2 linked regions of the Homo sapiens genome follow. The protein of the gene in region 1 purifies or fractionates together with the protein of each later gene. This does not show direct contact. Each region holds a gene or a part of one and is shown in the gene's direction. Other genes may lie near its edges.

Evidence for each region. Proteins that work in one complex are often made in the same cells at the same time.
Region 2: the proteins of CCDC77 (region 1) and CCDC13 purify together in Homo sapiens (co-immunoprecipitation; one study listed by IntAct). This does not show direct contact.

Annotation. Positions count from the first base shown.
Region 1 is NC_000012.12:439,506-443,157, forward strand, and holds the end of CCDC77 (coiled-coil domain-containing protein 77), read left to right. Parts: intron 1-1,111; coding exon 1,112-1,237; intron 1,238-1,338; coding exon 1,339-1,491; intron 1,492-2,268; coding exon 2,269-2,415; 3' UTR 2,416-3,137; downstream 3,138-3,652.
Region 2 is NC_000003.12:42,742,169-42,745,821, reverse strand, and holds part of CCDC13 (coiled-coil domain-containing protein 13), read left to right. Parts: intron 1-663; exon of another isoform or gene 664-879; intron 880-2,755; exon of another isoform or gene 2,756-2,764; coding exon 2,765-2,926; intron 2,927-3,653. UniProt on the Homo sapiens protein: Required for primary cilia formation and promotes the localization of the ciliopathy protein BBS4 to both centriolar satellites and cilia.

The DNA of each region.
Region 1 (3,652 bases):
TGGGACTCCATCTCAAAAAAAAAAAAGGACTTTGGGAGGCAGAGGTGGGTGGATCACGAGGTCAGGAGTTCGAGAGCAGCCTTGCCAGCACAGCGGAACCCTGTCTCTACCAAAAATATAAAAAAATAGCCAGGCGTGGTGGCGGACACCTGTAATCCCAGCTACTTGAGAGGCTGAGGCAGGAGAATTGCTTGAACCTGGGAGGCAGAGGTTGCAGTGAGCCGAGATCGCGCCACTGCACTCCAGCCCAGTGACAGAGCAAGGACTCCGTCTCAGAAAAAAAAAAAGAAAAAATTATAGATTATAAAATGCGGTATTAAGGGAATAAAAGAATTACATGAAAATTATATGTAGTTGCTGGAAGTCCATTGTATTAATAGAAGGAATGCACAGGGACACTCTCTTATATCTAGTGTTTCTGCTGAGACCTGAAAAATGGGACTAAGCTTGCCATACAGACCTTGAGGAAGAACATTCCTGGCAGAGGGAAGAGCAAGTTTATAGGCCCTGGAGTATGTTCAAGGAAATGGAAGGCTGTCATCATGGTTGTAGAGGAATAAATAAGGAGGAAGTGGTATGCTCTTTAAGAAGCCAGCATTGGCAGCAGCCAGTTGTGGAGGGCCTTGTGCATCATCGTATGGAGTGTGAACTTAGCTCTCAATAGTGTTATGTATTTGAAGGGTTGTGTGAAATAAGTAACATGATCTGATTTGGGTTTTTAAAAGATCATTTTAACTGCTCAATAGGGCATGTATAATAAGCGTTGTTGTTAATATTTCTTCCTTTTTAAAGAAGAACTTTAGAAATGTAGCCCAAAACATATATTGTAATGTCTTCCTTGGGACAGCTTCTGAGCTCCGTTATCTGAGTCTTCCCAGAGCCAAAAATATTTGTTTTAATTTTTACTGTGTACACTTTAGAAAAAGGGCTTAAGAGACTGGTCTAGAAGTAGATTTTCAGATGTTCCTCAAAGTTCCTTGTCATCTGGTTCCTTAACTCATTTTGTACCTCTGGAAATCCCTTCTTTTCTTTCTTTCTTTGCCTAAAAGCTACTTGAATTACCTGAATTGTAGAACTGAGTGTTAATGTTTTTTGTCCCTTTGACTTGTAGTCCCTAAAAGATAAGTTAGTACAAGAGAAAAAGCTGTCCAATATGTACCAAGAGCAGTGCATTTCCTTAGAAGAAGAACTTGCCCGAATTCGTGAGGAAGAGGGAATGAGGAGAGAGATCTTCAAGGTACGAAATTATCTGCCACTTGTAATGGAATAGGAAGTGCAGATGGCTGGGGAAGACGCTTCCCTCACCTTCGTAAATGCCTTCCCATTCCCCATATTTAGGATCGCACTAACAAGATGGGGAAGCGTTTACAGATAATGACAAAACGCTATGAGGCATTGGAGCGTCGACGTATCCTGGAAGTAGAAGGCTTTAAGACAGATATTAAAGTTCTCCGACAGAAACTGAAAGACTTGGAGCAAATGTTGTATAAGGTAATTGCTGGTCCTGAATTGCCACGAGGGAGAGAAGAGGTGTAAGTGAGGGAACATGGTCACGAGGGCCCCTGAAAAGAAGGATGTGCTGTTTCCCTGCTGGTAAACACTAACAGATCACCATCTTCAAGCCTCCCTGAAAATTAGTTCAAGAACATGCTAGAGGGAAAATAAAAAGACCCTGAAATCATTGAACGACTGCATCATTCATACTTCGATGTAAGCTAAACAGATTGTCATCCCTCCTAATTCAAGAAGTAGATTAAAGAATCGTGTCTGTCTTACAGTTGGGGAGGGTGAGTAATTGAGTGATAGAGTACTTTTTTCCAGCAGACACAGTTCTTTAGAATACAAGTCGCCTCAAGAGTCTTCTTAATGAGATTTAGCCAGTTAGCCTGTGTTCCAGACAAGGTTAGTTGCAGAAAAGAGGAGACGCCTGCTTTCATTCTGTGACAAACTTACCAGTAGTGTTGCGCTTTCATTCTGTGACAAACTTACCAGTAGTGTCGCTTATCCTGGCCTCTCTTACTCCTCTTTCATGGTGCATTGATCTCTACCTCAAGCCTCCTTTATTGCATGGGAAGGATTTTCATGAGATTTCTGCCTTAATTCTACATTTTCCTTCTTTAGTTAGCCACTGAACAAAGGATGGAATTTATCCTATGTACTCAAAATCTCACAAAAAGGAGCTAGCATAGCTGTGTCTTTTTGACTGATATCGCTCCCCTGGCATATGCCATCATCATTTCTTTTTTTTTTTTTTTTTCAAACCCCTAGGCAACAGTTAATGCCCGGGCAAACCAGGATCTTGCCCTTCTGTGTGAGGTCCGTGACAGCAATAGACGGGCACATAAGATACAAGGAGAACTGAAGAATCTTAAGTCGAAAGTGTTTGGTCTGGAGAATGAACTTAGACTCTGTTAATGTCTACTTTTGGAAATGGCCCCCATTTAGAAGAGGTGTGCTTCTTGAAACCTGAGGACAAGGTCATCTGCTGCCAGAAAATGTAAACCTGAGTTGACTAGAGTGGTGGTATTCATTATTGTAAAGACAGCTTGAAGAATCGGGGACCACTAGGAAAGCTTTTCTTGCATACTCAGCTTGCTTTATCATTTTTGCTGTCCTTTTAACACTTGCGAGGAGTAGGGGCCTGGTCCTGAATGACTTGGAGGCTTTCATTATTTATCCTGTCTGTATTGACCGGTTTTTGTTTTTTCAGAAGGCAGTGATGATGAAAACTTAGGAAGAAGGTATTTTGCAATAAGCTTGGCTGAGTGTCCATGGGAAGAATACTTTCCCTAAAGAGAGAGAAGCACTCACAGAGGCTGCCTTTCTCCTGAGCTCGGGGAGAAGGCAGCACATCACAACCTGTCACATTGAAATAGGCGCTCATTCTGCTATTTCACCTTCCGTCCTGAGCAGAGCCTGAATTACGTTTTTGGGCAATTTCATGGTGTTTCACCAGAGGGCGCTAGAGACTCAAACGAAATGTCCATCTGGAAAGATTCGGGAGACACTTTGCCGAGGGGATGAAGCTGAGATGATGCTTGTATGGAAAGTTTGATATTTTTATCAGTCACATGGCTTTTGAAAAATGATGTATATATTTTAAATTAACTATTTTCAATAAAATATTTCACTCAAAAGATTTTCTTTGAGTTTTCTGTAACTTCTTCTCAATACTATATTTATGCTTCGTTAATGACTCACGCAGCTCAGTTTACGTTCTTGTCCCATGGCCTCTGCAGTTTTGTGCAAGTGTACAAGGTTTTTTGGGGGGTTTTTGAGACAGTTTCACTCTCGTCACCCAGGCTGGAGTGCAGTGGCGTGATCTCGGTCCACTGCAGCCTCCGCCTCCCGGGTTGAAGTGATTCTCCTGCCTCAGCCTCCCAAGTAGCTGTAATTACAGGCGCTCACCACCATGCTCGGCTAATTTTTGTATTTATTTTATTTTATTTTATTTTAGTAGAGTCAGGGTTTCACCATGTTGGCCAGGCTGGTCTTGAACTCCTGACCTCAGGTGATCCACCCGCCTCGGCCTCCCAGAGTGCTGGGATAACAGGTGTGAGCCACCACACCCAGCCCACAAGTTTTTTTAAATTACTCCTTTGAAATCATCTAGTGTTGGAGATAACAAAGCTAGTACGAAGGGGATGACACT
Region 2 (3,653 bases), on another chromosome or scaffold:
AAAAAGGCCTTTAGGTCTCACAGTGCACTCGTGCGGGGTTGTTGTTTTACCTTCTCGCCAACCAGCCTGATTTTAATTTGTTATTTAATGAACAAGCTCTTATATAACACTTAGCACATGCCAGGCACTGGAGCTTAACAAATGCCAACGCCTTTGGTTTGATTTATTTTACTCCAGGCATCTTTTTTTTTTCTTAGTTTATGTAGATTTGCGTGACTGTTGTAATTGTAAGCTTTTTCCAGTTTTGTCCAGATGCTTGTAGTCTTTTGAAAGTTTAATTACCCAATAAAAATTTAGCCTTGTCTCCCTCTTTATTGTCTGAATATTTTGGAGCATACCAAAAGCAGCTAACAGCAGGGGCTCTGGAGCCACACTGCTCAGATTCAAATCCCAGCTCTCCACTCACCAGCTGTGTGACCTTAAGCAAGTTCCTTTAGCTCTGTGCCTCAGTTTCCTCATCTGTATAATGGGGATAATAACGATGCCTACCCCACAGGATTGTTGGGAGAATTGAGTCAATACTTGTAAAATGCTCAGCACAGGGCCTGGCATGGAGGAAGCACTGTATAAAAGTTAGGTGTGGTTCTTTTCCCTTTGTCCCTTCAAACTGAGAAACATGTGAGAAGGTGTATGACTTCCACCATTTGCCAAGCATATCACCCTTGTTCCCAGGGACTTCGAGGGTCACAGTGGCTTTTATCTTCAGTGTCTCCCATGGGATCCTTGAAGCCAATATAAAGGGGGAAAAACTCCAAGAAGCTAATAGATGATAGTGCATGGCCTTGGGGTTCAAGAGACCTGAGTTTACGTTTGGCCACCGGTCTGCCAACTCTGACCTTGGGCAAACCCCTTCATCTTCCTATGTCTTCATCTTCACACCTGTGAAATGGGGTAACATAAAATAACATTTGTAAAGCACCTAGGACAGTGCCTGACCATAATAAGCACAAAACAACTTACTTCTTATTGTCATTAAGTTACATGTCAAATTCTTTTTTTTTTTTTTTTTTTTTTTTTGAGACGGAGTCTCGCTCTATCACCCAGGCTGGAGTGCAGTGGTGCGATCTCGGCTCACTGCAAGCTCCGCCTCCCGGGTTCACGCCATTCTCCTGCCTCAGCCTCCTGAGTAGCTGAGACTACATTTGCCCGCCACCACGCCCGGCTAATTTTTTGTATTTTTAGTAGAGACGAGGTTTCACTGTGTTAGCCAGGATGGTCTCGATCTCCTGACCTCGTGATCCGCCCACCTCGGCTTGCCAAAGTGCTGGGATTACAGGCATGAGCCACCACGCCCGGCCCTGTATGTCAAATTCTTAAAGGTAACAGTATTCTTTAATGATTAAATGGAATTGCCTCACAGCGCCACACGAGGGCACTGGTGGGTGCCTTCAAAGCTGTGCTCCTGCCCTTTGCCAGGGAGCCTAGCGAATTGTGCTTCCTTTCCTGGCTCAAGTTTACCAACATTGTTTTGTCATTTGGTTGTGTTGATAGGGAAACCAGGGTCAGAAGGACCCTAGGAGTTGTCTGCTTCTACCCTAGCGTTATAAGGGTGATAAGGGCATTGTTCTGTGGGATGACATCTACCTGCCACTTGCTGAAGGCCCACATGTGCCAGGCTGTGTTGACAGCTTCACCTAGACCATCTTGGGATTTTGCAAAGTTACCTAATCCTAAAAATAACCTGTAGCATTTAAAATGCAGATTCCATGTCCCTTCCGCTAGAACTGTAGTTTGTTGATCTGGAGTAAGCACCAAGATTTCAGTCCAAGAAGAACCTCAGAGGATTCCCAGGCTCAGACAACTTCACAATACTGAATCCTCATAACAGTGTTACGCAGGGCAGTGTTACTCTTAGGCCCATCTTACAGATGAGGGAACTGAGATTCAGAGAGTTACCTGTGCGCAGTCACACAATCTGTGAGGCTTTGAGGCAGTCTGTTTCCAAACCCTGCCTTCCCCTCTTCAGTATCTCCTGTAAGTGACTGCCATCTTCCGAGAAGCCCACCCAGTCTTAGGTGGTCTGTCTGTTAGAAAGTTCCTCCTTGCCCAGCACTTTGGGAGGCTGAGGTGGGCAGATCTCTCGAGCCCAGGAGTTCAAGTTCAAGACCAGCCTGGGCAACATGGTGAAACCCCGTCTCTACCAAATTTTATATATATATATATTTATATTTATATATTTATGTGTGTGTGTGTATATGTGTATATATATATGTGTGTGTGTATATATATATATAAAATTATCCAGGCACAGTTGCCTGTGCCTGTGGTCCCAGCTGCTTAGGAGGCTGAGCTGGGAGGATTGCTTGAGCCCGGGAGGCAGAGGTTACAGTGAGCCATGATTGCACCACTGCACTCCAGTCGGGGCAACAGAGCAAGACCCTGTCTCTAAAATAAATAAATAAATAAATAAATAAATAAATAAATAAATAAATAAATATTCTTTCTTGAACTGAGACCTGCCATCCTATCCATCCCTGGTTCCTGGGGCCATAGGTCTGCTTTCCAGCCTCAAACAGCCCCTCAGAGATAGGGTGATTTTTCTCATTCACCATTTTTCTAAGCTGAACTTTCCTGGTGTCTTCCAATGTGTTGCTCAAGATGCCAGCTCAGATTGTCCCCCACCCCTAGTCCTCCTCAGATGGGGCTACCACAGCCATCTAGAGAGGTGGTTCCATCTTCAGTCTGTGGGGTCTCCTATCACACTTCTGAGTAGAAGAGGCTGGCAGAAGACCCATTGTGGAACGACGAGTTTTACCATCCTCAGGTTCAAGAGCTTGAGAAGCAATTGGGCCAGGCCCGGAGCCAGTCTGCGGGAACAGCCAGTGATGAGTTGTCTGTCTATCCAGACCCAAGGAAGCTGTCGGCACAGGAGAAAAACCTGCTGAGGATCCGCAGCCTGGAAAGGGAAAAACAGGAAGGCTTGGAGGTAACGCGTGCCTGAGGAGGTCAGCTGGGCATGTGGGAACGAGAGATCATGATGGTGCCTGCAAGGGCTCTGAGGCACATGTGGTCAGAAGTCTGAGCCACCCCTTCTAGGCAGGAGACACCTGGGGACCTGGGTCACCTCTGCATGTTCCTCATGTCCTGTCAAACCAACTTGAGCTGCCTGACTGGGACCTCACTGTGAGCCCATTTAATGAACTTTTCGTGGCCCCATCCTGGCTGTTTTGGAGGTGCTATACCTGAAATTCTCATTGTAAAAGGGAGAGGGGGAGGGTCATGGCCCCAGAAGTATGATAGGGTTAGATGGGGCTTAAAGGGGGAAAGTTCCAGGCTGATGAAAGAGGTAGGCAGGCTGGACTCAACACCAGGGGCCGCATCTCACTGGCTGCGTTGGGAGTGTCAGAACTCTAACTCTACCAGGTTTAAGCAACAAAGGGAAGTCATTGGCCCATGTAAACGAACAATCCAGAGGTGGCCTAGCTTCAGGTGCAGATCGGGGCCTTGCTCTCAGCACCTTCTCCTGGGTTGGCTTCACTCTCTTCCACAAGGACCCTGGGTAGTCCCAGCTTCTCTCCTCCAATGCAGCCTCTACAGACAAAGGGTTTCTCTTTCCCAATAGTTCCAACAAAGTCCCAGAATTGAGTGTCTTTGGTCTAGCCTGGGTTATGTGACCATCCTTGAGCCCATCACTGTAGCCAAGAGTACAGGGT